4 linked regions of the Homo sapiens genome follow. The main gene of each other region encodes a partner of the protein of the gene in region 2 in a complex. Each region holds a gene or a part of one and is shown on either strand. Other genes may lie near its edges.

The links.
Region 1: TCTN1 (region 2) and B9D1 share a complex: the UniProt entries of both Homo sapiens proteins name them as parts of the tectonic-like complex.
Region 3: TCTN1 (region 2) and CC2D2A share a complex: the UniProt entries of both Homo sapiens proteins name them as parts of the tectonic-like complex.
Region 4: TCTN1 (region 2) and TMEM237 share a complex: the UniProt entries of both Homo sapiens proteins name them as parts of the tectonic-like complex.

Annotation. Positions count from the first base shown.
Region 1 is NC_000017.11:19,359,712-19,366,772, forward strand, and holds the start of B9D1 (B9 domain-containing protein 1), read right to left. Parts: upstream 3,013-7,061; 5' UTR 2,859-3,012; coding exon 2,796-2,858; intron 678-2,795; coding exon 609-677; intron 1-608. UniProt on the Homo sapiens protein: Component of the tectonic-like complex, a complex localized at the transition zone of primary cilia and acting as a barrier that prevents diffusion of transmembrane proteins between the cilia and plasma membranes.
Region 2 is NC_000012.12:110,609,486-110,617,146, forward strand, and holds the start of TCTN1 (tectonic-1 isoform 1 precursor), read left to right. Parts: upstream 1-4,643; 5' UTR 4,644-4,697; coding exon 4,698-4,917; coding exon of another isoform or gene 4,918-4,978; intron 4,979-6,791; exon of another isoform or gene 6,792-6,827; coding exon of another isoform or gene 6,828-6,867; intron 6,868-7,262; exon of another isoform or gene 7,263-7,419; intron 7,420-7,661. UniProt on the Homo sapiens protein: Component of the tectonic-like complex, a complex localized at the transition zone of primary cilia and acting as a barrier that prevents diffusion of transmembrane proteins between the cilia and plasma membranes.
Region 3 is NC_000004.12:15,472,873-15,479,896, reverse strand, and holds part of CC2D2A (coiled-coil and C2 domain-containing protein 2A), read right to left. Parts: intron 6,676-7,024; exon of another isoform or gene 6,642-6,675; intron 3,983-6,641; 5' UTR 3,965-3,982; coding exon 3,926-3,964; intron 1,175-3,925; coding exon 1,091-1,174; intron 686-1,090; exon of another isoform or gene 675-685; coding exon of another isoform or gene 569-674; intron 1-568. UniProt on the Homo sapiens protein: Component of the tectonic-like complex, a complex localized at the transition zone of primary cilia and acting as a barrier that prevents diffusion of transmembrane proteins between the cilia and plasma membranes.
Region 4 is NC_000002.12:201,633,483-201,640,506, reverse strand, and holds part of TMEM237 (transmembrane protein 237), read left to right. Parts: intron 1-241; coding exon 242-246; intron 247-1,461; coding exon 1,462-1,518; intron 1,519-3,621; coding exon 3,622-3,759; intron 3,760-7,024. UniProt on the Homo sapiens protein: Component of the transition zone in primary cilia. Required for ciliogenesis.

The sequences.
Region 1 (7,061 bases), on a different chromosome or scaffold from region 2:
CAGAAGACAATCAATAAAGGGAAAAGAAGGATTATCATCTCAGTTGTACAAATGAGGAAACTGAGGCTCAGAGAGCTTAAATAAGTTCAGTCTCCTTTTCTTAAACTGCTATGAAGATGAAACAAGTGCTTTGCAAACAGCAGAGCACAGAGCGGGCTGAAGTTGTCACCACAGTCCCTCACCTGGTGGAGGCAAGCTACCCCTTGGGAAGTCCTGGAAGGAGAGCTCCTACTCTGTCTTTTTACTCCAGGTCCTCCCCACTGGCTGAGGAGAGGCCAAATGGTGAGCGGACTGGCCAGAGTGTCCACAGCTCAGCCACGTCCAGGCTGGCTCACTGGGGCCTGCCTCCTACTGCAGGTGTTGCTCTTTGCTGCCCCGGGGAAGCTCACAGGGTAGGGCTTCTGAGTGCAGTCTTGGTGGATGGATCAGGGAGTCCAACCATGGCTGTGTCCTCTGCTCCCGCTTTACCAGGAACACTCATGTTTGGGTTCCCCTGAACTCAGTCTCTACCTCTTAACTTGTTCTGAATGGGGAGGGGAAGGATATGACACCTTCAGAAACCCCAAAAGTCATGAAGGCGGTAAGGGAGGCCCAAGAGTCCAGCTTACCGCTGTGGGGGCCCAGTCCTGGCCGTACACAAAGCAGTACTTGCAGTAGAGGTCATCATACTCTGGAAACTGAAAAAAGCACAGACAGATTCTGTCGACTGGTATTCATGCTGAGGCCAATGCATTTGCTAGGCAGGTGCAGCCAAGGGGAATTCTGAACGTGAGACACCTGGGAGTGGGTCTAAGAGACGGCTGGAGATGTGTTCAGAGGAGAGGCTGAGGACCAAGAAGCGGGAGTCCACGGGAGACTCCCAGGTGCCACGGCCCCTGGCTTTTGCTCAGGCTCTGCCTTGTCTGATTTGTCCTTCCTACTTCATCCGGAAAACTCCTGCTCACCCTTCAAAACTTACCCTTCAGGGAGCCTGCTCTAACTCTCAAGCTGGTTTAAGGTCTCCTCTTGGCTCCCTTAGCCCCGTGCTTCCCTCCATAAAAGCAATGATTGCCTGTGTCTAAGTCTGTCAGTTCCTCTAGACCATGAGTAGAGAAGAGATTTAATGCCTTTCTGTGTCCCCACTGCCTGGCACAGGGCTGGGCACAGATAAGGTCTAAGGCAGGGGTCCTCAACCAGTCCGTGGCCTGTTAGGAACGGGTCCACACAGCAAGAGGTGAGGAGCAGGCGAGCAAGCAAAGCTTCAACTGTATTTACAGCTGCTCCCCATTGCTCGCATGACCACGGGAGCTCCACCTCCTTGTCAGATCAGTGGCGGCATTAGATTCTCATAGGAGCACGAACCCTACTGTGAACTGCACATGTGGGGGATCTAGGTTGCATGTTCCTTATGAGAATCTAACGCATGATGATCTGTCACTGTCTCCCATCACACCCAGATGGGACCATCTAGTTGCAGGAAAGCAAACTCAGGGCTCCCACTGATTCTACATTATGGTGAGTTGTATAATTATTTCATTATTATTTACAAGGTAATAATAGAAATAAAGTGCACAATAAATGTAATGTCCCCAAATCATCCCAAAACCATCCCTCGCCACCTGGTTTTCCACAAAACCAGTCCCTGGTGCCAAAAAGGTTGAGGACCACTGGTGTAAGGGAATGGTGCTGAAGTGAAAGGTCTGAGAACCCAGGAAGCCATCATATGCAAGGCTGGAGCTGAGGCCCTGAAAAGAGGGAGGTGCTGAGAGCAGAGCAGGGAGGAACAGTGTGACTGTCAGTGTGTGTGTGGCGGGGGGGTCGCTGATGCTGAGAGCACAGACACATGTGACTCAGCCCAGCCGAGAGCCCCTAATAGGAAAGGACAGGAGAGTGGGGAAAGACGGTCTTAGGCACTAGGCTAAGGCAGAGGCGGACAGGGTGGGAGCATGGAGTAGTATCCCTGATGAAATAGGAAGGCAGGAGACACCTACAAAGCATCAGGCCCTGTCAGAGCCTTACCCAAACCGTCTCAGTCAATCCTCACAATAATATTATAAAATAATAATAAACACCACCTCCAACAGCCTGGAAGGACAGTGTAGTGAAGCTTTGAGGTCAGATAGGCGTGGGTTCAATTCCCAGACAGGCCAGTTCCTTTGGTATATTTCCCCAGCTGTAAAATGGGGGTGTTAGTAGTGCCTATCTGGTAAGGCTGTAAGGGTGGACCAGTGCGGAGCACCGACTTTGGGACATATTGAGGACTTGGTGAGCGTTGGTTTATATTTACAATAAATGATTCCTCTAAAGTGTAGGGGGATGGGGAATAGCGTCCCTCGGGCCTAGCAGGCACACCTTCCTTGGGTCAATTCCAGGCCACCACCATTGTTGGATGGTTGGATTCGAACCCGAGTTCAAGGATCTGGGGATTCAGAACGCGGGACAGTAACTCCACACGGGACACAGCGCAAATGCTGGAAACTCGGCCAAGCCTCGGCTCCTCGCGTTAACCCCAGGAGGCTCCTGCCAGTGATCCAAGCAAGTGGGCATGACCCGTGCGAGGGCCCACAGGCTTGCCCGAGTGTGACCTCGGTACTAGCTCAACATCTCGAGGTCTGCTTCTATTCCTGCACATCGGGACTCAGGATCCGGGCAACCTCGCGCCAAGCTCTCCAATGCTGGCTCCCCTCCCCCGCCTAACCGAGAGGCTCAGAGGAATGACGTGGCTCTCCGGGGGCCACAGGGCAGCCCGGGGGGTTGCGGGAAGGGCCCCGGGGGACGCTGGGGGGCGGGCCCCGGCGGGGTCCACGGCCGCTCACCTGGGCGCTCTCCACCTGCCCGTTGACCATGAGTAGAAAGACGCTAGGACTCGCGGTCGCCATGGCAGGTCTGGGGGTGCCGGGGGGACCCACCTAGGCCGCGCGCGGTTGCTAAGAGACGCCGGCGTTGCCCTAGAAACAGACGGCGTAGCGCGCAGGACACGTTTCTTGGCAGCGACACCTTCGCGAAGGCCACGCGAGTGCGCGTGTGGCATGCGCAGGCGCAGTGAACGGGCGCCGTTATAAGGGGGCGGGGCACAAGGGGCGGGGATCCACGCCGAGGCTCCACCCCTCCTTAGGGCAGGTATGACCGAGAGCTGGGGCGGGAGCGTTGACCTGTCGGGTAAAGCCAGCCCTACCGCTCGACTCAGTTGCACGCGCAGGGAGTGTGTGTTCACTCTGACTCGGCCCGGCTCCCCGTCCCCGCCGAAGCGCAGAGGCGAATGAGAGCTGAGTCCTGGGGAGCAGCGCTCCGACTCACGCCCTCAGCAAGCCGAGTGTTTAAAATACATTCAGCCACTAGATGTCGCTGTGGCCCCACCGCGAGGACGCGGAGGGAGGCGCTGCAGAGCACGGGCGACGTGACCACAGCTGTCGGGGCTAACTCTGGAATGCCGGGTGCTCGGAGGAGCCTCCCCAGCTGGGGCCAAGCAGCGTCCAAGCAGGTGAAAAGGATGCGCCCCTGTGGCTTGGAGACGCTTGCCCTCGAAAAAGTTTATTAAACAAACTTGGGAGGGACCTCAAGAATCCTTACATCCAAGCCATCGCTCTTTAGTTCGAAGCTGGGGAAACTGAGGCCCGCAGCGGGCGGCGCCTGGCACCCCAATCAGCCAGCGCTCAGGGGAGTTGCTAGCCAAAATCCACGAATCTGTCAAGATACAGTCTTGTATCTTAGTGGCCTGTCACAGAGTAAGCACTTGGTAACTACTAACTTGTTGATAAATGAATAATTGAAGACATCTCCATTTTACAGAGGAGGAAACAGATTCAGATGGCAAAGGCAGGTAAGTAGCTAAGTCAGGATTCAAACCCAGGACTCCAGAGGCTAACAACCCTCACTGCCTCTGTCTTGTCCTGGGCCAGCCCCAACAGCATCTGTTGGCAGAGGTGTCAAAGGAGACGTTGGAGACATTATCTTGGATCCAGGAAATGAAGGGATTCACAGGTGTGTAGACTCCCGGGAGGCCAGGCTCCGAGCAGGGACCCCAGGTCATCACATTCTGCAGCTTCTAGCTTGGGAGCAGACTAGGGGAGTCCCATCAACCATCTGCACGAGGGAGGGAAGGAGCAGTCTCAGCCCAGCCTGCACCCACTGAACCACCCCCTGCCTAGTGAGCAAAGATATTTGATCAGGGGAGGGAGGCAGCGGGTAACCAGTTCACACATCTGACAAGAGCAGCTGGGGGAGGGGATGGGTGGGCTGGTGGCCCAAGTGCTGCACCCAGAGCCCAAGACAGGGCCCATTTCCCCTCCTGGAGAGGGGGTCATACTCCCTTCTTCCCCCGCTCTGTCCATCTCTTTCCAGTTAAAGTGCTTTCTCCCACACATTCTATCAGTCTCACCCAATTATTTCCTCCCTTTGGCCTTTGAGGCTCGGTGTTGCACACAAGTTAGTTTTCAGCAAAATGCTTGTAGTTATCGAATAACTGGGGGCTCCCAGTAGTTTAAGACCTGGCTATACCAAAGGTGGCCCCACATTCAAATAGGACATAATGGGGGAGTCTCCCCAAGGGGTGGGAAGTTCTAGGGTGGCCTTCAGGGGTACAAATAAGCCCGACCCCTGGGTGTTGGGGAATGGAAGACTCCAGGATAGGATGGGAGGGTGACCAGGCCTAACTTTAACAAGTCTAGTGGCATTAGAAGCGACTTTAGGAGAGGGGTCTCAGGGGCTTGCATAGGGGCTTGCATAGGGCCTGCTGGAATCCTTACCACCAGTTCAAGGGCCCAGTGGAGAGCCTGGTGTACTAGAAGTCCTTGGGCAGGCTGTCCTTCAGGTCAGGACAGTCAGGTTGGAGGAGAAGGTAGTTTCTGCAGATGCTGACACACAGCGATCTCAGCAGGACACTCTGCAGCTCTTGGGGTGGGATGTAGGGATCTGCAATGGGGTGGGGCAGACCCTCAGCCCAGCTGACATCCAGCCGATCTGCACCAGTCCAGCCATGCTGGTTGTTAACATATATTGCTGAGCTTCCCTGCCTGTGCCTGTGCCAAGTCTCTCCACCCCCAGATGCCTTCCTGGGCTCCTAGACATTCCTCGCTCCCACCTCACTCTTAGTACAGCTCTGTCCTCTGGTACACTCCCACGCAGTCCCCTCAGGGAAGCTTCCAGCACATTGGGCAGGCGGGGCTGTCAGCCATTGGGCAGGGGTGAGGCTGGAAGCTGGCTTGAGCAGAGCAGGTGTCAGCGCCAGCCCTCTTCCCTGCATGCCTATGGCCATGGTGCTGCCGGGCAGCTGGCCAGAGCCCCTGCAGGGTCCCAAGCTCCACCCTGGCCATCTGCCTCCCCCAGTCTCTCAACCATCCCAGGCTTCTGCTCCCATCCTTACTGAAATCGGGTTCAAACCCCTGGCCCCAGCAGAGCTGTCTCAGGAAGAGGGAACAGTGGGATTGAGTGGCCAGGGGGACGGCCTGCACAGCGCTGGTGAGCGACGGAGGCCTTGCCCCTTGCCAGTTGTGCCAGGACCAGGCTACCAAACCCAGAGCCCTCGGGCCCTGCTGAGGACAAGAGCAGCTCCCCCATGGTAACCTGATCTCACAAGAGTCCATCTGCAGTCGATCTGGACCCAAGGTCACACTGAAGTGGGACCAAGGCCAACTGTGGAGAGAGGAGGTGAAGGGGAGGTGGAGAGCTGGAGAGGCTGGGGGCCACCCTCCTGGAGCCCCTCTCCACCACCCCTCCTGGCTGTGCACCCACCTGTCAAAGCAGTTGGCGCCTGTGAGCACCCACTCTTGGGAGATGAGGGCCCCCTCACAGCGGCACCAGGTGTCCAGGAAGATGCTGGCCTGGCCAAGCCATTTGTCTGGGCCCTTCTTGCTGGAGGCCTCAGCCAGCCTGGACCCTGCACCTCAGGAGACTGAAGCCTCAGAGCTCAGCTCCGGGTCCCAGGGCCTTGCAGGTCTACCATGCATCTCTTTCCATCCAGCCCTGCGATCTCTGCAGCCCAGCTTCCACCCCTCACCCCTCCAGCTCAAAATCAGACTGCCTGCAGTGGAATCCTATGTGACTCAGGGAAAGTCCTTTAACCTCTCGGAGCCTCGGTTTCCTCATCACACCCAGGGGGTTGTTGTGAGGATTAAATGTGATAATATATGTCAAAGTTCCATACATTTGTAGCTATTCTTTTTTTTTTTTTAATTAAAAAGTTTATGGGCACATAGTAGGTGTATACATTGCAGCTATTCTTGTTGCTGAAGTCATTCCTGGGGTGCTCCTGCTTTTTCATGCCTCCTGGTTTGCACATGCTGTTCCTTCTACCTAGCTCATCATCTCCTACCTATCCGCCCAGAGAACTCCTATGTAGCCTTCAGAGCCCACTCTTGTGAAGTCTTCCTTGAACGCCTCTCCCCTTGGCCCCACAGTCTGCTCCCCACTTCCCACCCAGAAGCTCATTATAAGTGGGTGTCCGGCTCTGCTTGCTTTTCTCTTTAGACAGGGAGCTCACTCATCTCTAAGGAAGCTGGGCCTCCTTGAGGACAGCCCTCCATCTGCTCTGCCCTGGTCATCGGGGTCCACCCTCAGCACCTTCAAGGGGTGGGGAGCCCTGGGGTGCACACTAGGGGCAGGCATCCTGCATACAGACTTGGCGCTGGGGTCTCCAGATCCTCCTCCCAGGAGCTTGTCCTGGGTCCTGGGGCAGGGGACTTCTTAGAGTCCTGCTCTGCCCCGTCTCAGGTAAGAGGCAGAGAGGGCAGCTGGCTGAGACCAACAGTAACAATAATAATCCCATGTGCCCTCTCTTTACACCCCCACGAAGTCCTGAGCCCCTGTGATTCTGGGCTCCTCACAGTGACCCCCCAGACCAGTGCTCCTAGCCCCCTTTTACAGATGGGGAAGTCGAGGCTCAGAGACAAACCGACTTCCCAAGATCACAGTGAGTTGGAAGCAGAGTTGGGATTCAAATCAGGGTCCCTGTGACTCCAAGTCCCCAAATCATTTCTCTCAAAGGCCTTATAGGTCTTTCCTTCTGTCTTTGCCTCTTGGCTCTTCAGCGGAGGGGCCACACTTGGAACACCGGTTGCTTGAAATGCCTGGTGCAGGCACTCGGC
Region 2 (7,661 bases):
TGTGTAATCCCAGCTACTTGGGAGGCTGAGGCAGGAGAATCACTTGAACTGGGAAGGTGGAGGTTGCAGTGAGCTGAGATTGGGCCACTGCACACCAGCCTGGGCAAAAGAGTGAGACTCCATCTCAAAGAAAAAAAAAAAAAAGAAACCCAAAAAGAAAAAAAAATAACAACTGTATGGTAAACAAGGAATTCTTATTTCATTCCTGTTGGTGAATGTCTGTGACTGTATGTATGACTTTCTTTTAGAAAAGGTCAAATGCAAATGTGAGACCTTTCAAGAATGTGAAGTCTGCTCAAATAGTCCTTCTGTCCCCGTAATGTTTCAGAAAACACTTAAAGAACAAGAATAGGCTGGGCGCGGTAGCTCACGCCTGTAATCCCAGCACTTTGGGAGGCCGAGGCGGGTGGGTTACTAGGTCAGGGGTTCAAGACCAGCCTGGCCAAGATAGTGAAACCCCGTCCTACTAAAAATACAAAAATTAGCCAGGCATGGTGGCGGGCACCTGTGGTCCCAGATACTTGGGAGGCTGAGGCAGGAGAATTGCTTGAACCTGGGAGGTGGAGGTTGCAGTGAGCTGAGACCGCTCCACTGCACACTAGCCTGAGCGACAGAGCAAGACTCCATTTCAAAAAAAAAAAAAAAAAAAAAAGAACAAGAATAGTACTCAGTGGTTGATGAGGTACGTGGGGACTGGGAGAATGAGAGCAGTTGAGGATTATTTTCTTCTGGGCGTTGATCTGGAAATCAATTACCCGACTAGTTACTTCAGTCAAAATGGTACAGCCAATCCTCCGTCTTCACACAGTCTTGATCCCTTTGTAGATCTAAAGCAACCCCTTTAGGAAGCTTTGTGACTCTGCCACCTCATTTGTGAAATGTTTGGGAGAGATTAATAAAAATAGATATACTAATCACTAGAAAAAAATTTCTACTTTTTCTTTTGAGACAGGGTCTCACTCTGTTGCCTAGGCCAGACTGCAGTGGTGTGATCATGGCTCACTGCAGCCCTTGACGTCCTGGCCTCAAGCGATCCTCCCACCTCAGCCTCCAGAGTAACTGGGTTCACAGATACGTGCCACCATGCCCAGCTAATTTATTAATTTTAAACAGGTTGGAAGCCATGACTTCAGCAATAACAAGAACAACAACAATAATAACCAATTCACCTCAAACCACACCAAAGAGCAAGACAGAGTGGTTGACACTACCTTGTGAAGTTAGCCTTAGTTTTTTTTCCCTACTTACATACTCCTCCTATCTTTGATTTTTTTTCCTTTCAGGCTTCTCATATATGGCGACTTCTCATATATGGCAGCTTCTCAGCACAGAATTCTAAAAAGCTGAATTGTCTTGATCCTCCCAATGTCAGCATACACTATAAGGAATTGTGAATGCCAATAATCCTGGAGAAACAGATGGATATTTGAAATCACAAACATTTATGCACAAACCAAATGTTGAGGTTTTGGGCACAATATGGAGCTCGATCTTAGCCACTCTTGTGTCCTTCCATCCTAATGAGGGAACCTGCTAAGGCCAGGGACAAAAGGAAGGGAGAAAGGGTGTTCTGGGTTGAAAGATGAAAACAGGCTGGCAGAAATGGGTCACCTGTGAAATGAAAAGTTCCAGTGTTCCTAATGTTTGCAAACTGTATCTGGGTAGGTGCAATCCTCATTCAGAGTCAAATATCATAAAATTACTTTGGGGCCATCTACCACGTGTTTGTTTGAGATTGGACAAAAGAGGCGGTGAAATTGGCAAATCATATCATAGCAGGTCCTGGTTGGAATAATGGGATATCAGACTTGAAGAGGACCTCAGAGGTCCTATAACCATAACAAAAATTATAAAACTGGATGGGAGTGGTGGCTTACGCCTGTAATCCCAGCACTTTGGGAGGCCAAGGTGGGCGGATCACTTGAGGTCAGGAGTTCAAGAACAGCCTGGCCAATATGGTGAAACCCCGTCTCTACTAAAAATACAAAAATTGGCTGGGCTTGGTGGCAGGTGCCTATAATCCCAGCTACTTGGGAGGCTGAGGCAGGAGAATCACTTGAACCTGGAAGGCAAAGGTTGCACTGAGCCGGGATCCTGCTACTGCACTCTAGCCTGGGTGACAGAGTGAGACTCCATCTCAAAAAAAAAAAAAAATTATAAAGCTAAAGGATGAGTTATCAAAATTTAATCCAGCAGTCTAAAATTTCAAAACAGAAAATAGAACAAAATGGTTCACAGGTATTAAGGAATAGGAAAGAAAGTAGAGGGCTGGAAGTAAAGAGGTTTAAAAAGGAAAACAAACAGGCCCTGGTTTTAGAAGTTATGAGATGAAGGTTTGGAAAATATACTTTTTTTTTTTTTTTGAGACGGAGTCTCGCTGTGTCACCAGGCTGGAGTGCAGCGGTGTGATCTCGACTCACTGCAACCTCTGCCTCCCAGGTTCAAGCAGTTATCCCGCCTCAGCCTCCTGAGTAGCTGGGACTACAGGTGCCCACCACCATGCTCAGCTAATTTTTGTATTTTTAGTAAAGACGGGGTTTCACCATGTTGGCCAGGGTGGTCTTGATCTCTTGACCTCGTGATCCACCCGCCTCAGCCTCCCAAAGTGCTGGGATTACAGGCGTGAGCCACCATGCCCGGCCTACTTTTGGTTATTTTTTTTAAAAGGGGAAGCATTTAATCAGTTATTAAAAGCAGTCCAGAATTTCAGTCAGATGCTAAAGCAATCCTTTGCAGAAAAAAAGAAGTATCTGTCTTACACATTTGAGTGATTCAATTATATTTTTATACACTGTCTCTGGAATGCCACAGGAAGGTGCTAAAGATATCACTTTGATGATTTAGTTTTGCTAAATACATTTAATAAACTAGATATATATACTGTTTGACATCCTTTTGAATTGGTATATACATTTCTTGAATAAATACTGTGTTATGTTTAAGGTTTTTTTGTTTTGGAGTGCAGTGGCACTATCATGGCTTACTGCAGCCTCAAGCTCTCCAGACTGAGGCGATCCTTCCACCTCAGCCTCCTGAGTAGCTGGGACTACAGGAATGTGCCACCATACCTGGCTAATTTTTGTATTTTTTGTAGAGATGTGGTTTCACCATGTTGCCCAGGCTGGTCTCAACTCCTGGACTCAAGCGATCCTCCCAAAGGGCTGGGAGTACAGGTGTGAGCCACTGTGCCTGGCCACGTCTAAGTACTTCGACATCTACTTCTGAACTGTATGGAGATTAAGTGTCAAAGGTGCAGCCAACATTCTTGGGCTTGGGTACCTCCTAAATAAGCCCATTCAGAATGGAGAGGGTTTCCTAAATCGTAGGGTCTCCAGGTCGTTTTGTAGCATTACAGTGGATTTGCTTTGTTTTCCCCTTTAAGATGTCTAAATTATTTTACTTAATTTTTGTAAAAGATTTTTGTCTTTAAATAGGTTCTTAGGCCTGGCGTGGTGGCTCATGCCTGTAATCCTAGCTCTTTGGGAGGCTGAGGCGGGAGGATCACTTGAGGCCAGGAGTTTGTGACTAGCCTGATCAACATAGTGAGACCCCCTCTCTACAAAAAATAATAAAAGGTATTAAGTGTTCATTTGTCCCCTTTATCACAATACAGCAGACAGAAGTTATCTGGCAACCTTGTGAGATGCAGCTAAAATAAAAAGGTGAAGCCAGTGTTGACAGAGTCTGGGATAGAGAAAATTCAGAGACAGTGATCTCACAGATCCCTGTGCTCCTTCCAAACACCCACGTTAGTGGCGTTGGGACGGCGCTTCCTAAATTTCCGTCCAACTCATCTGCTTGCGTCCGGACATTTGTTAAAAATATTTATTCCTGGCTGGGAGTGGTGGCTCACGCCTGTAATCCCAACTACTCAGGACTCAGGAGGCTGGAGCAGGTGGATCACTTGAACCAGGAGTTCGATACCAGTCCGGGCGACGGAGGGAGACCTCGTCTTTACAAAAAAAAAAAAAAAAAAAAAAAAATACAAAAATTAGCTGGGTATGGTGGCGCGCGCCTGAGTTCCCAGCTACTCAGGAGGCTGAAGTGGGAGGATTGCTTGAGTCCCAGAGGTCGAGGCTGCAGTGAGCCGAGATCGCGCTACTGCACTCCAGCCTGGGCGACAGAGTGAGACCCTGTCTCAAAAAAAATCCCCCAAAAACTGATTCCTGGGTCCTGCCCTAGACTAACTGACTCAGGATCTCCTGAGGTGGTACCTGGAAATCCGTCTTTTTTTTTTTTTTTTTTTTTTTTGGTTGAGACAGAGTGTCACACTGTCGCCCAGGCTGGAGTGCAGTGGCACGCTCACGGCTCTCTGTAGCCTTCACCTCCCGGGTTCAAGCGATTCTTCTGCCTCAGCCTCCCGAGTAGCTGGAACTACAGAAAATCTGCATTTTTTAAGCAAGCGCCGCGGACCGGTTGGAAACCACAGCCGGGATTTACACGCCCCTCGTTTACGCCAGCTTCACACCCGCTCACTAGTGCTCGCCCCTGTGCCTGCCATCGCTGCCTCACCCAGGCGCCGCCCTCCGGCCTCATCCGGGATCCGCCCCCTGCCTCATCCAGGCTTCGCCCCAGTCAGTCTCCGGCAGCTTCTCGCGGCTTCGCAAGCCCCTTCCCGTGATGCCCCGCGCCTGGCTGTCGCGGTTGCCGGGCAACGCGCTGTCCATGTCGCGGGCCTCGCTGGGACTCCCTGGGAGATGAGGCCGCGAGGTCTCCCGCCGCTCCTGGTGGTGCTCCTGGGCTGCTGGGCCTCCGTGAGCGCCCAGACCGATGCCACCCCGGCGGTGACGACAGAGGGCCTCAACTCCACCGAGGCAGCCCTGGCCACCTTCGGAACTTTCCCGTCGACCAGGCCCCCCGGGACTCCCAGGGCTCCAGGGCCCTCCTCCGGCCCCAGGCCTACCCCAGTCACGGACGGTGGGTACCATGTGCCAGCTCCTGGAGTCCACAGTGATCCAACCTCAAGGGGACAGCCCCGGTGAGGACGTAATAATGATAGCTAACTCTTATTGAGCACTTACTGTGTGCAGACACTGCTGAGTGTTCCATAAACGTCCATTCTCTAAACAATAACCCTGAGAAGTAGCTGTTACTATCACTGTCAGGTAAATGAGAAAACCGGGTCTCAGAGTTTAAGTGGAACGGTATCAAACCTTTGAAAATACTTGAAGTGGTCCCAGACAACAGTGATGCAAAGAGCAATAATGAATTCTTGCAGCCCAAGACGAAATTAAGTCGAGACAATGGTGGAAATTAGTGCCTTGGCTGCACTGAACTTTCACTTAAAGAGAGGCCAAAGGTCTATCTTACTAAATGTGACTATGTTAAGACCCTTCTCTGTTGACCTGAATTCTAAAAACCCAGGATTCCTCCTGTGTTGAATTGGAGGTGGAAAGCTATTGAGGGAGGGGTTATGCTCACTTCTTAGGAGTCATATGTAGGGATAATTAACATTTTTTTCAGAAAATGATTAATTCTAGAATTACACATTTAGTGGAAATATTTTATAATCTAATTTGACGTTTGGCTGGCGCCGTGGCTCACGCCTGTAATCCCAGCACTTTGGGAGGTCAACTCGGGTGGATTGCTTGAGGTAGGAGTTCAAGATCAGTCTGGTCAAAATGGCGAAACCCAGTCTCTACTAAAAATAGAAAAAATAGCCGGGCATGGTGTAATCCTAGCTACTCGGGAGGCTGAGGCAGGAGACTCGCTTGAACCCAGGAGGCAGAGGTTGCAGTAATTACCACTGCACTCCAGACTGGGCGACAGAGCAAGACTGTCTCAAAAAAAAAAATTGACATGGATGACTTCACTGAATGACTGTGACCCGCTAAGATTGAGTGCAAAACTTTGTGAATATGCCTTTTCCTGAGATGAGAGTTCATAGCAGCCGATTCTTAAAGTGGTTCATGATCTCAAAAAAAGTTTTTAAAATTTTCCGATTGTGTGAATTGAGAGTAACCCCAATAGATATGCAGTACTTTTAATCTTTTTTTATTCTTTTTTTGTTTTTGAGACAAGGTCTCGCTCTGTTACCCAGGCTGGAGTGCAGTGGCGTGATTATATCTCACTTAAGTCTCAATCTGCTGGGCTCAAGGGATCCTTCTGCCTCAGCCTCCAGAGTAGCTGGAACCACAGGCGTGCTCCCCCAGCTTGCTTTTTTTATTTTTTTATTTTTAGTAGAGATGAGATCTCGCTATGTTGTTCAGGCTGATCTCAAACTCCTGGGCTCAAGTGATCCTCCCACCTTGGCCTTCCAAAGTGCTGGGATTACAGGTGTAAACAACTGTGCCCAGCCTATCCCTTCTTAAGAAGATCTTTTCTCAAATTGATTAAGGCTCAGTATTAGTAAGTAAAAAAGTCATCAGCTGAGATCTTGAACTCTAGGACTTAACTGCGGTTACTGAACCTTTATTTCTCCAAAAGCTCTCCTTTCTGAATTACGAGTAATCTGAAAGAAAAAGTACAGAGAAATATATTTGCTATTTTAATATATAAACAGAGCTCTGTTTTATATTTAAATTGTTGATTTGATGAATTAGTAGGGAAGTTAAATCAGTGATAAACTGGGACAGAAGAAAGCCAAGTATTCAATGCCTGAAACTCTAAAGTTTTTGGACTGGATTGTCTTTTATTCATGTAAGTACTCCATCTGTTAATGCATTTTCTCTCCAAAATAAAGCTATGCTTGAAACATCATTATTATAGCATGTGTTCAAGGCTGTTTTTCCAGTATAGGGGATGAATTTGTGCTTGTCCTCACACTTTATTTTTTTTTTTTTTGGTCACAGGGTCTCACTCTGTCACTCAGGCTGGAGTATAGTGGCATGATCACAGCTCACTGCAGCCTCGACCTCCTAGGCTCAGGTGATCTTCCCACCTCAGACTCCCGGGTAGCTGGAACTACAGGTGCTGCATGCCACCACGCCCGGCTAATTTTTTGTAGGGACGGGGTTTCACCATGTTGCCCAGGCTGGTCTTGAACTCCTGGCCTCAAGTGATTGCCCACCTAGGCCTCCCATAGTGTTAGGATTACAGGCTTGAGCCACTGCACTCTGCCAGTCACCTGTCTTCACCTTTTTAAAGGACCTCTCTTTAGACTTGTGACAGTAATAACTCATTTGTTAACTGTTCACTGTGTGGCAGGCACTGTGCTAAGCATTTCACCTATGATGTATCTCATTTAATCCTTACAACAACCCCATGATGAGGGTACTGTTATCCCCATTTTTCAGGTGGATAAATTATTTGCCTAATTTTAGGACACGCAACTTGTAGATATCGGAGCAGGAGGCTGACTGTGAGTGGAGAACTGGATGGAAAATTGCAGGTGGCTTCAGGCAGTGTTGGTGGAGAAGAGTGATAACCCTTCATCTTGAATCTGGGCTCTGTTCATTAGTACCCTGCTCTACAAGCCAGGTGTGCAGATGCGATAGGAGGCAAGGGCAGCTGAGTGCTGCTTAGACCTGACAGGGGCTCAACAGCTACTTGGTGGATGATTAAGTACACTCGCATCCTGGGTAGAAACCTTTTTCCTAAGTGGAGTTATTAAACACTATTGCTTCGTCCTTAGTAGTCTTACAGCTGCCTATAAGGGCTTTAAGTTTTGAAAACAAAGCAAGATAGTAATTTTAAACATACAGGGAACCTAAAGCACTTTT
Region 3 (7,024 bases), on a different chromosome or scaffold from region 2:
TTCTCCATCCTTGCCCCTTTCTCCTCTTCAGTCTAAGCTCCGTGGCAGCCTTGGCACTAGTCACCCACTTGCTCACTGTGCCTGTGACTGTGGAGCTAAAGGCTTGAACCCTTTTCATCTACTGCCTCCACAGCCCCTGGCCTTGGGCTGCACGGCTGCAGACTGACCCCACAGGAAGGGGTTAAAGCTTCGGAGCTGTGTCTGGCTGTGGGTCTCCTCAGTCCCCAGGAGTGGCCAGAGAGCTAGCCCACGTGGCCAGGCAGTACCTCCCCAACCACCTGGACCCTCCCTTGAAAGGCTGAAAGTGACTCCTCTGCCCAGATTGCCCCGAGGAGTGTGCTGAGCAAGGGGGGAGCTAGGAGGGAGGTCTCTTCTGTCTCCCTATGACCTCTTCATCTCTCCTGGCCACCCCTCTCTGCAGCCCCTTCACGTGACTGCTGGCTCAAAATGGCGCTTCTCTCCCCTCCCTCCCCTGCTGGCATCTTGATTGTTCCAAGCAGAGCTCCCATCCACAATAGCTGCTTCCCTGCCTCCCTTCTCAGAGGACAACTTCTTACCAAGGACTTACCTTGAAAAGATTTACCCTGCACGGGATGCTCCCAGCCTAGGAGGGGAACTCCTGCGGAGAGGTGGGGGAGGATCTGCCAGCAGGCTCGGGAGAAAGGAGTTGGCTTCTGCCTCAAAGACAGAATTTGGGCTTGGAGTTGGAAAAAGAGGGAGTTTCCCAAGATTTGTAATCGTGTACTGCCATCTACTGCCCATCATAGTCCATGGCCTTCAATGAAGCACTAAAACAGGCTCCTTCCATCTTTTCTAGAGTCCTCTCTCAGGAGATGGGAGAAAACTTAGAGTAAAAATGCTCTAAGTATGGACCCCCGCCTTATTGTGAGGCTCATCTATAAGTCTCTGAATCAGGCTCCTGCACCCTGGACCACCCATCTGCATCCCCGCCTCACAGCCCCCCAGAGCAGGCCAAAAGTTGGTACCAAAAGAAGGAAGGCTGCCCTTGTGGATTCTGTATGGCCCTGGGGATGCAGGCGGGTTGTTGATCAATGACAATACGCAGACACAGTTTCTTGTCACTTCTTACCTGTTTCTTTCTTGGCTGTCTTCGAACCTTTGAGTTCTTATTCTGTCTTCCCATGTCTGCATCCTCATCATTTTCAATGAACTCCTTTGTGAAAATGCAAAAGGGAGAGAATCTTAAGACAGGAAGAGAGGTATGACTTTTAGGTATTAAAATTAAAACTCCCATCTTGACCCTGGGCTTCTATCCAGTAATGCTGAGTGTGAGTTGGGGGACAGTTAACAATCTGTGCGGCTCTCATCATCCACTCTTCTCAACATAGACATGTTTTCGAAAAGTCGTATCCATATTGGACCATCATACACGAGATGATGTTGGATCTTCCATTGTTCCAGGTCCTCATTCATGCATACAGCATTTATTGAGCATTTACTATGTTCCATGCTCTTGGGACACAGAATTGAAAGCCACATGCTGTCTGCTCTTAAAAGTTACAATCTAAGAAAGGCGACTAACAAGTGAATCTGCTAGGACAGACATCACAATCATATTAGGGATTTCACCGGTTAAGTTTTTCTGCTTTCCAGCCTTACCAGCAGGAAAAGGATAATAATGATACATGTTACATCATCACAAATGCTTCAAGTTAAAGGAAATTTTGGCAGATTTTTTTTTGAAAAGGAAAACAATCCTTTAACAGCGCAAACTTCGTTTCCTCTTTCCACCTTACGCTTTCTAATATTTTAGTCATAAAATGTTAGAGCTGAAAGCTCTAAAGTCTACGAGCTCTAAAATGTTTTAGTCCTAGAGTTTTATAGACTGGGGCACAAGTGCCCCTGGGTGAACAAAAAGTTGCAAGATAAACAGAACCTCTCTGGGGTACACAAAACTTACTAGATTTTTTTTTCCTAAAATTAGGATTTTTTTGTTTTTATACTGAAACAAATTCGGAACACAAAGTATGAATTTTAAGGATATATAATTTCAAAGAAATATCATGCAGGTTTCTGGGCCAGACCTCAATTACTCCTGACTGCCCTTGGCCACTGGGGTTAGGGAAGACATGAACCGCAATAACAGAGGACGGAAGTGAGGTCGAACGAGAGAATAGCCTTGGTTTGGGCCTTTCCTTTGTGTATGTGACCTGATCTCTGACTTGTCCTCTGAGCTGCATCCTCACTCTGGACTCCTTCTTTGGGCCTGACTAATAGGGAGTGTTCTTAGTTCAGGGGATTCGCCAACTTAGATTACAAGAAGATAATTATATTGAGGTGTGCAAGCATGGCTTTTAATTCAATTCTAAGTTTTTACTGACTTAGAATGGACTTGTGAGAAACCTACGTAATGTTTTGCTTTTCCGTGATGTTTTCATCCTCTATTCTAACTATCCAGTAGGACTTCAAATAAGATAGAACGTAAGTTCCATGAGGGAACAAGGTTTGTTTACTGCTGTATTCCCAGGGACTACAGGCACAAAATATATTTGGTTATATGAATGAATAAGCAAATATAAATTTATGTGGGTTTGTTGGTACTTGATCTTGCTTAAAGTTTTTTTTTTTTTTTTTGAGATGGAGTCTTATTCTGTCGCCCAGGCTGGAGTGCAGTGGCATGATCTCGGCTCACCGCAACCTCCGCCACCCAGGTCAAAGTGATTCTCCTGCCTCAGCCTCCCAAGTAGCTGGGATTACAGGCATGCCTCACCACGCCTGACTAATTTTGTATTTTTAGTAGAGATGGGGTTTCTCCATGTTGGTCAGGCTGGTCTCGAACTCCCAACCTCAGGTGATCCACCTGCCTCGGCCTCCCAAAGTGCTGGGATTACAGGCGTGAGCCACCGTGCCCAGCCATCTTGCTTAAAGTTAATCTGCATGGTTTTATAATGAGTTTCCTCAGGCTTTTTGGAGGACTGCATTGGACAGCACATATCATCTCCATTTCTGTCTTTGTTGTCTCAAGCCAGTGAGCCCTTGAAGCGAGAGAGAAGTAAGGATTGAGAGGAATACTCTCTCTTTTGTTGGATGGTCTGCAGTCTCCAAATTAGACAGCCTCCCTTCTCTGGTGTGGGCAGTGCTTTAATGAGTTTTTACATACAATGAGTCAGAAATTGCAGGACTCCACAGACAGAGGCTTGTATTAGCAGGTGTCTACAATTGTTACCTTCATTCTGAATGTCTTTAGAAATCAGCGTGCTTCAGGCAGAGCTATGCTCAATAATAGGTAGTAACTTTGAGCTGCTGTGTGTCAGAGTTCATAGAACCGTGACAAAACAGCTTCGGAGCATTCAGGTAGAGGTAAGACCTTGGAATGTCAGCAGGACTGCATTTCCTTCAACATCCACCTCCCCTTCTCCACCACGTCTCTGATATAGCACCCTCAGGGTGCATTTAGTCGGTGTGTGTTAAATTAAACTAAATGTGGCTTGAGGATACCTCTGTACTTTGAGTTCTTACATAACAAACTGCAATCTTAGTAAACTAAATGAAAGCCTAATTTAGAAGTATGCTTCTGTAGCAGGTAGCTGAGTCTCAGCCAATCACAGCAGCTGAGTGTCAATCAATCACAGGTGGCCTACTGATCAGACTGTGTTTAAATAAGGCAACACTGAGCTGTAACTAATCAAGCTGTTTCTGTACTCCACTTCCATCTTCAGTCCATAGATGCTGTCTGCCCACAGAGCAGAGCAGAGCTCTCTGAATCTCTTCAGGTTCTGAGGGCTGCCCAATTCACAAATCGTTCTTTGTACAATTAGACTCTGTTGAATCTAATTCATGTAAAGCTTTTCTTTTAACATGTGCAATAGATGCTGGTTGGCCTAACTTCCTCATTCACAAACACGTGTAACATAAGCATGCACACACAAACACATCCCTAGAGGACATCAAAGTGGCCACTTACCTCTGTAATTATTTTTACTTTTTCTTCCCTGGGATTCATTTTGGCTGGGATGGGTCCCTGACAAAGAACAATGAAGAAGTCAGGCATTTTGAAATCAATGAAATATTGCTTCTCTTACTATGGATATGTAAGAGGCTGGCCATGATGGTAAGTGAAGTGTTTGAGCTGGGTAGACTTTCCACTCACCAGGAACCCTGGCAGACCCCAGGATTGGTGGAGATAAGTGCCAGAGGAAAGGAAGGATGCCAGGTCTCCCTGTCCCTGGGAGCCTGCCTTTACTGTGCCCATAGAGTTGGATGGCACTGGTTGGAATCCAGCTCCAGAAGGACCATTTTACAGCTCATCTCCGCTACTGCCCCTCTGCACTCTCTGCCCTTGACCTTGGCCCTTATTTCACCAAGTAAAAAGACAAGACCAGAGAGGGCTTCTACATCCCCTTCCCCTCCCACCACATGGAGCCACCGCCACCTCCTCTGCTTCCACTTGCTACTATGAACCCCCATGTCCCATGGGGCCCCTCCTTGAACAGTGCACTAGGCCCCATCATTCCTCCTCCTCCAGGCCCTTGATCCTGACAATTCTTCACTTTCATCTGGATTTTCTTCCTGCTCTATTGGCTCATTCCTACCAGTGGAAAAAATGCTGTAATTTTTTCCTTCCTTTAAAAAAAGGCCCCTGCCCCCTACACTTTTTCTTTTGAGACGAAGTCTCACTCTGTTGCTTAGGCTGGAGTACAGTGGCACGATCTCGGCTCACTGCAACCTCCGCCTTCCAGGTTCAAGGGATTCTTCTGCATCAGCCTCCTAAGTAGCTGGGATTACAGGCGCATGCCACCACGCCCGGCTAATTTTTGTGTTTTTAGTAGAGACAGGGTTTCACCATGTTGGTCAAGTGGGTCTCGAACTCCTGACCTTGTGATCCGCCTGCCTGGGCCTCACAAAGTGCTGGGATTACAGGCGTGAGCCACCGTGCCCGGCCAAAAAAAGCCCTCTCTTAACTTTACTTCTCTTTCTAGCTGTTGCTCAATTTTTCAACAATTATAGAAAAATCCCTCAAAACATTCCCTCTCTTTCCAGTTTGTTTTTTTATTTTTGGGGTCTAGCATACTCTGCAACTGCTTTTGCCAATGATTCATCTCCAGTGACCCCTGCGTTGCCATGTCCAGTGATCAGTTCTCGGCCCTCATCTTACTTGACTTGGTCAGAGGCATTTAAAACATTTTCTAAGTTTTTAATTTTTGTGGGTACATAGTAGGTGTATATATTTATGGGGTACATGAGATATTTTGGTACAGGCATGCAAAGCTTAATAATCACATCACAGAAAATTGGGTGTCTATCCCCTCAATCATTTATCCTTTGTGTTAGAAACAATCCATTTATACTCTTTTAGTTATTTTTAAATGTACAATTAAATTATTATTAACTATAGTCCTTTCATTGTGTTATCAAATACTAGGTCTCATTCATTCTTTCTATTTTTTTTTTGTATCCATTAAACAACCTCCCCCGACCCCTGACTACATTTCCCAGCCTCTGGTAACCATCCTTCTCTTCTCTATCTCCATGAGTTCAATTATTTTGATTTTTAGATCCCACACATAAGTGAGAACATGCCATGTTTGTCATTTGCATGTTCTCACTTACTTGTGGGTGAAATAAGCCAGGCATGGAAGGGTCAGAAACATTTAGTGATGAAAGTGACCCATCCCTTCTTTTGAGATACTTTCTTCAGTTGGCTCCTGGAACAAGTTCTTTCTTGGTTTTCCTTTTACCCACTGACTGTTCCTTCTCAAACTCCTTTGCTGGTTTCTCCCTATCTCTCAGACCACCAAAGATAGGAATGCTGTGGGGCTTAGCTCTGCCTGTTTTCATTCCTCTGGCCATCTCATTATGTCTCTTGGTTTTAAATACCATCTGCATGCTGATACTTCCCAAATTTACATCCTGGGTCCAGACATCTCCCCAGAACTCCAGACTCAAGTATCTGCTTGATGGACACCTTCACTTGGCTTTACATACCTCAAATAAAGTTCTTTGCTTTTACTCCTGAGCCTGCCTTGTACTGCAGTTTTCCTGTTGTAGTAAACAGAAATCCATTTTGCTCAGGCCAGAAACCTTGCAGTTGTTCTTAACTCCTTTCTCAGTCTCACATGAATCCATCAGAAATCCTGCCAGTTTTGGCTTCAGATTATTTTCAGGATCTAATCACTTCTAAACATTTCCACTGTTATCACCATGGTCAAACACCATCTTCTCTCTTGAAATCTACTGCAAGAAACTCCTAATTTCTCAGCTTGCCACATTGCTGGGCTACCATATTCTCTGCATTGAAGCCAGTGCAAATTGATGAAAATTTGAGTGACATAATCACATTGCTTCACTCAAAATCCTCCAATGATTTCCCTTTGTCAACAGAGTAAAACCCAAAGTTTTTTCCAAGGCCTACAAGCCCTGTGTGATTTGCACTTGAATCCTGTTGCCTCAGGACCTTTGTAGCTGCGGTTCCTGCTACCTAGTTCTCCTTTTTCCCAAGATATCTGCATGGCTCTTGCTGTTTCACTTTCTTCAGGTCTCAGCTGAAATTTTATTATCAGAGAGCTCTTCTCTGACCATTCGTAATACAATGATCTCCTCCCAACACCCTCCTGGAATTCCCTAACTACCTTACAATGATTTTTTCACAGTACTTATTACCACTCAACATACATACTTACTTGTTAATGTCAGCCCATATCCATTAGAATATAGCTGCAAGAGGGCAGAAACATTATTTTGTTTATTGTTTACCCCCAGAGACTAGGATTATGGGACATCATGGACATTCAATATATACTTGTCGAATGAATGATTAAGTCACTGACTTATTGGCTGTGGTTCCATAGCCACATTCTGGGACTATTTAAAGCTCCACTGTTTCTTCTAGGCTGCTGTGAGGATTAAATGAGAAAACACATGGAGAAACAACAGGCATATGGCTGACAAATCATAAGCCCTTTCTAATATCCTTGGAACCCAAATCTTAACTGGGACTTGGTCAGGTCATTTAAGCAGCTCATCTGAGATCAAGGTTTCACTGACCCTACAGGGGAATTAGCAT
Region 4 (7,024 bases), on a different chromosome or scaffold from region 2:
AATATGTATATGTAGGTTCAGAAAATATTGACATTATTTTATTAGCAGTGTTATTAAACCACTTAATTATAAACAGTAAACTAGTTTGTAAACTAGCTATTATGTGAAAGCTAATTTTATTTTAAATTTGTAATGATTTAAGTCAATTTTCACTGTGAATATTAACAGGTTTCTAATTAATTGTTTCTTTTTTGTCTTTGTCCTGCTGATTAAATTTGTTTGGTGTTATATGACGTGTTAGTCAAGGTGAGTTAGTTTAATGTAAATATAATATTTGGTGTTCAAAAATTAGTTTGATTCCTTGGTTTGTTTCTCTTAAAACTGAGTCTGAATGGTGTAATTTGTAATTCTACAATATGTTTTTGTGAAATAATCTCCCATGACTACCATTTAAAAATTGTCATTGATACATAGCACTAGATGACCTTTCCATTATAAAAGCACTTCATCCCTGAATGGGGTCACCCAGCACATAACTGTTGGCTAATTTGTAGCTCTATAATGAGGACTGCACCTTCCTTTGTCTCATTTAGTCAGGGTAGACAAGGTTATACTATACTAAAACCCCCAAATCTCAGTGACTTAGTGTCACACAGGGTTATTTCTAATTAATACAAAGTCTGCTATGGCAAAAATGGGGGACCATTACCTTTCACTACCTTTTTACTATTGATATAGCAATCTAGGCTACTTTTTTTTTTCTTTTGTTTTGAGACAGAGTCTCACTCTGTTGCCCAGGCTGGAGTGCAGTGGTGTGATCTCGGCTCACTGCAATCTCTGCCTCCTGGGTTCAAGTCATTCTCCTGCCTCAGCCTCCTGAGTAGTTGGGATTACAGGCGTGTGCCACCATGCCCAGCTACTTTTTGTATTTTCAGTAGAGACAGGGTTTTGCCATGTTGGCCAGGCTGGTGTCGAACTCCTGAGCTCAAGTGATCTGCCTGTCTTGGCCTCCCAAAGTGTTGGGATTACAGGTGTGAGCCACTGCGCCTGGTCTGCAATCTAGGCTACTTCTGTGCTGTGGTCCCACCATCTTAACATGAGGCTTCCTCAGTCACCACAACAAGGGAAGAGAAAGCTGGAAGATTACTCACTGGCTCTTTCAACGTTTGGCTCTGAAATGACACAGATCACTTCTGCTCACAGCCTATAGGCCAGAACCAGTCATAGACTACACCTATGTGCAAGGAGGCTGGGAAATATAGGGGATCAGATGAATATTTGTTGAACCCACTTTCTGTGTCATGGTTTCTAACATTACTGACATGCAGTGTGCTACTGGTACCACACTGTGGGCTCTCTCTGATCTTCTCAATTTCTTGCCTTCTTCCCCTAATCTATAAACGTTTGCCAGGCCCAGGGAAGAGAGGGAGAATTCTTCCCTGTTTAAAAGTTCTCTTCTGACTGTTCTCTGCATTGAATTTTAGGCACCCTTTTCTGTTGACGTTTTTTCTTGCTTTATAGATGATATTCCACTTAGTCGTCCTAAGAAAAAGAAGCCCAGAACAAAAAACACACCAGGTAAGACGTTATTCTTTGTTGTGTGGGATCACAAGTTTTCCCAGGACCTCAGGCGTAGTAAACATCACAGATAAGGGAGAATTAAGGCCCCAGCAGCCCCGAATCTCCACTTCATTGAGGATAGAATTAAGGCCAGTTTGAAGCAGTGGAATTCCTGGTGGTGGTGAGGTACAGGGCAGTGGGCAGCCTGAGGAGTATCTGGACGCATTCATGGAATAGAAGGTGGTGCCATCTAAGCTCCTATTTCCATGATATTCCTGGACTCTTTAAGGTCTTTTATCCCCAGACAACATACATGGTTTTAAGCTATGATTGATTCCAGACCCTTGAACAAGATACTGAATTTAGAAACACAGAGTTCTTAAATCTCACTTCAATCAGAATATCTCTACATTACAGCATGAGTCTGAAGGCATGGCCACATCATCATTTAAATAGTAAAGCTTCAGTCATGAGCAGAACTCGTTTTTGTCTTAGTCATCCACTGATAATCCTGGAAGTTGCATCCGTAACTCTAAACTCAGCACATCTAGAATCCATCGTTGCCTTTAAGAATAAATAATTTTTTTACGTCTCATGATTTTCTGTTAATGGAACCTACCATTTTCCCAGCCCTCAGGCCTGAAACCTCAAGATTATCTTTACCTGATCCTTTAACTTCACTCTTTACTTGAGACCTCTCACACTCCTAAAAGGTTTCTGTGGTTGCTGCTCCTTTTTTAAAACAAACAAACAACAACAAAAACATAAAAGGAATCATACATACTATCTTTGTTTCTTAATACATAGAGTTCTATGTATTCTTAAACAGTGACTTCATTGTATTACATGATAAGAATGTACCATAATCACTGCTCTGTTATTTATTTAGGTTATTTCCAATTTTTCACTCCAACAATGTTGCAGTTCTGCATAAAATAGTGGGTGGTAGGGAAGAAGTACTTCTGTAGGATGGATTGCTAGCAGTGGAATTGCTAGGTGCAGGATGTGTGCATTATTAGTATGACTGACTCTGCTAAATTACCTTAAGGAAGCTTTAGTTATTATCTTGCTACCTGTAGAGTCTGAGAGTGTCTCATTCTCTAAATCCTTAACAACATTGGACAATAATCAATCTTTAAAATTTTTTTGTTAATTTAGTGGGGGAAAAGTAGCTTATTTTAGTTTACATTTCTCTATGTACTACTGAGGTTAAACATTTTCATTTGTTTATTGATACATTTCTATTTTTTTTTTTTTTTTTTGAGACGGAGTCTTGCTCTGTTGCCCAGGCTGGAGTGCAATGGTGTGATCTTGGCTCCCTGCAACCTCCACCTCCTGGGTTCAAGCGATTCTCCTGCCTCGGCCTCCTTGAGTAGCTGGGACTACAGGCGCATGCCACTACACCCGGCTAATTTTTGTATTTTTAGTAGAGAGGGAGTTTTGCCATGTTGGTCAGGCTGGTTTCGAACTCTTGACCTCATGTGATCCGCCTGCTTTGGCCTCCCAAAGTGCTGGGATTCCAGGCATGAGCCACTGCACCCAGTGCAATTTCTATTTCTTTTGTGAAGAAGACAAGCAAGGAAGGGAATGCAGTCAGGTATGTGTTAAAATTCTTTTAAAAGATTTCATGAGGGAAGAAGTTGAAGTGAATGACCAAATGAAGAGACTTATAAATTACCTGCTAACTCCAATTATCCATGATGACTTTATTATTCTTTAACTTATTAATGAAGGACTTTACTATATAGAGGCTGATGAAAATTCTTAAGGCAAGAGGCAAGTAAGAGAATTCTCTATGGTATCAGTTTTTATTATGTTTTCCACCTTTTTCAAAGTTCTAAATGTTCTGAAGCAATTTCTCCTCCTCCTGTCTTTTGCTCTTCTTTTTAGCCCCCTCGTTTTTTCTTCCTCAGCCTTTCTTATTCCTTCATTTATTTCTTTTCCTAACTTAAAGCCCAAAGTTACAGGTGAGGAGGAAGGAAAGATTTGGGGGATAATTAGTTCTGAAAGAGATGGGGTTATTCTATAGGAAACATTCTAGTTACCTTTTCCTCCATCTTTTTAAGATTCAGTGATCTTTGCTCAAGTAATCTCATTTTTTTCTACTCTGTTTTTCTATAGCAAGTGCTTCTTTGGAAGGCCTTGCTCAGACTGCTGGTCGAAGGCCCTCTGAGGGCAATGAGCCATCAACTAAAGAACTCAAAGAGCACCCAGAGGCTCCTGTTCAAAGAAGACAGAAAAAGACAAGGCTACCTCTTGGTATGTGAAGAAACCAAGGTTAAGTTGTGATAGCACTTGTGATTTTGATGACATGATAAAAACCTCTCTGCTTTCATTTCTTTCCCCCTATCCATATCCCACAGGTGGTTTCTTGCTTTTATGTTTAAAATATTTACCACTAGAATAACTCCAATGGCTTAAGCCAAGAATACTTTACAGGTCTCTTTTGATCATATATGTATAGATTATGAGAGGAGGGCAACAAATACAGGACTAAACAGAAAGTTCAGATCTCAGTGCATAGAAAAATCTAGTAAATGATGAAATGGACATTTCAGATTAGTGGGGAAATGGTAGATTCTGTACTAACAATAATATAGTGAAACAACAGCTAACATTTGTTTAGTCTTTCTATGTCCCAGGCAGTTCACAAGGTAAATAAAATACTATACCATTTTTTGGCCTATCAAATTGGCAATGCTTTTTTCAAATTATAAAATCCAATATTGATGGGAAATGGGTGCACTCATGCTTTGCTCATAGGAGCATAGATACAGCCTGTCTGGATTTCTGGGAATAGTAGTAAATTCAATAGCTGCAGTAATTAAAGGATGTTAACTGCAGCGTTATTTATAAGAGTAGAAATTGGTAATGACCCAGATATTTAACGGTGTGATACTGGCTAAATAAATCATACTTCATCCATAAATAGGAACCAGGTACCCATTAAAAGGATTGTTAGGGTGACACAGATAATCATCAGTTGTGTATTATTAAATCAAAGAACAAAGGTTATAAAATAGTATGTATTGGAGGATCCCATTTTTGTAAAATATACTATGTTAATTTCTTAGGGTTGCCATAACAAATTACCACAAACTGTGTGACTTCAAACAACAGTTTATTTTTTCATAGTTCTTAGGTGAGAAGTCCAAAATCAAGTTGTCTGCAGGACTATGCTCCCTCTGAAGTCTCTAGAAAAGAATCCTTCCTTGTTTCTTCGAGCCTCTTTTTTTTTTTTTTTAAGATGGAGTTTCACTCTTATAGCCCAGGCTGGAGTGCAATGGTGCGATCTCAGCTCACTGGAACTTCTGCCTCCCGGGTACAAGCGATTCTCCTGCCTCGGCCTCCTGAGTAGCTGGGATTACAGGCATTTGCCATGATGCTCGGCTAATTTTGTATTTTTTAGTAGAGACAGGGTTTTGCCATGTTGGCCAGGCTTGTCTTGAACTCCTGACCTCAGGTGATCCGCCCACCTCGGCCTCCCAAAGTGCTGGGATTACAGGTGTGAGCCACCGCGCCTGGCCATTTCTTCTAGCTTCTTATGGTTGTTGACAGTCCTTGGCATTGTTTGACTTGTGGTGGCATAATGCCAATCTCTGCTTCCATCTTCACATTTTTCCTTGTGTGTCTGTGTCCACATTTCCCTCTTATAAGGATATCAGTTGTTGGATTTAGGGCCCATTCCAATCTAGCATGACCTCATCTTAACTTGATTTCATCTGCAAAGACTCTTGTTTCCAAATAAGGTTACACTCACAGGTATTATGAGTTAGGACTTGAACATATCTCTTTTTGGAGCACAGTTCAACCCAGAACGTAAATATGTACATACATCTACATAGTAAAAAGAATGGAAGAATATAGCAGTGTTACAGTGGTAGAAGTTTTAGAAGGAGGAAGTATGATTTTTAAAATTTTCTTCCTTCATTTATTTTACTAATTTTTTATATTTTGAGCATTATGACTTTTATAATAATTAGAAAAATGACAAAGAGTTGTATTGGAGCAAAACTCAGGGAAGGAACAAAGATGGGGAGATTAGTGCTCTCCTATTAACATCAGCCCTTATTAATAATTTATTATAATTTTCCTAATTACTTGTCCTTCTAGAAAACGGCGTGTCTTGATTGGATGGAAGAATTATAGGAGTAGAAGGGCAGGAACTAGAAAAGTCAGGAGAATGGAGCATAATTTTGGAAGGCAAGTTGAAGTGGGATGCCACAGTGCCTGGGGGCACTGAGGGTCTATGAGAACGAAGGGGCGGATGATGGCAGAAGAAGGAAAAGAGACAGAAATGGTGCTCAGACTAGCTTTAACTACTCTACAGTTTATTTCATTAGTGGCAGTAAATGTAGTTTCATTAAAAGTGCCCTTTTAGTAATTTAGTTAAGATACAAGTTTAAAAATCAAGATGGATACCAATACCTAGTTTTATAATTTGTGAAAAGTGTGTTTACAGAAATGACTTTTTTAGAAAATTCAGGACCCAACTAAGTTTTGAATCAAAAAGGACCTGTCATTGCCATTCCAAAGTACACCAAGCCTGGCAGGTTCACCTTTCTAAGTTTCTGGATTTAAAAATTGTGTTTTTATTTATTTTGTTCAGGATGACCAATGGTAGGCTCTACTGCTTGCATTATATTTCCAGTCGAGGCTGTAAGTATTTTATTACAATAGAATTGTAAGGTCTTGAAGGTATTCCAGGGAGCTAGTATTTCCAGGTAGGAAGAGTAGCTAGTGGATTAGAAGAAGGCTTCACTGACTCATTTAAACTTAATACCTACCCTGTGTGCAGAAAAGAGTTAATATAGCAGACCTGAGACTGCTATCCTTGGAAAAGCCTGCTGATAAGATTGGCCGTTAGCTGGCATCTGGGAACTTGGATGATAAACAGCTCCCTACACTGATAGAAAACTTTCCCTAAATTATAAGGTGACTCACGGTGCATTTGTGCACACATAGTGATTTTTGCTGAACATCTGTTTCCCTTCCGGGCATCCAGAATTTTGGTATGTGCTAGGCTTATGTGACTAGCCCCTAACCTTGGGCACTGTCTCTGATGAGCTTCTTTTGTACAACATGTGTCACATGTGTTGTCACAACTCATTACTCTCCAGTAATGTTAGTACATCCTATTTGACTCCACTGATAGAGGACTCTTGGAAGCTTGTACTTGGTTTCCTCTGGACTTGGTCCATGTACTTTTTCCTTTTGCTGATTTTGCTTTATATCCATTTGCTGTAGTAAACCATAATTGTGAGTGTGATGATTTCCAAGTCCTGTGAGCCCTTCTAGAAAGTCAGCGAACCAGGAGATAATCTTGGGAATCTTCAGCACAGCCTGGGTATTGGGTTACTTAATTTTTTTCCATATTGTTTGGCATTACAATTTCAATTTTTACATTGAGAGTTTAGAAGTATAACATTTTTAAAAAATTAAAAATTTGTAAGATAGTGAAAACATTTTTGCCCAATTAAAATTCTTGAAGTTCTTTTCTCTTATACAAGTCTTGTACATTACT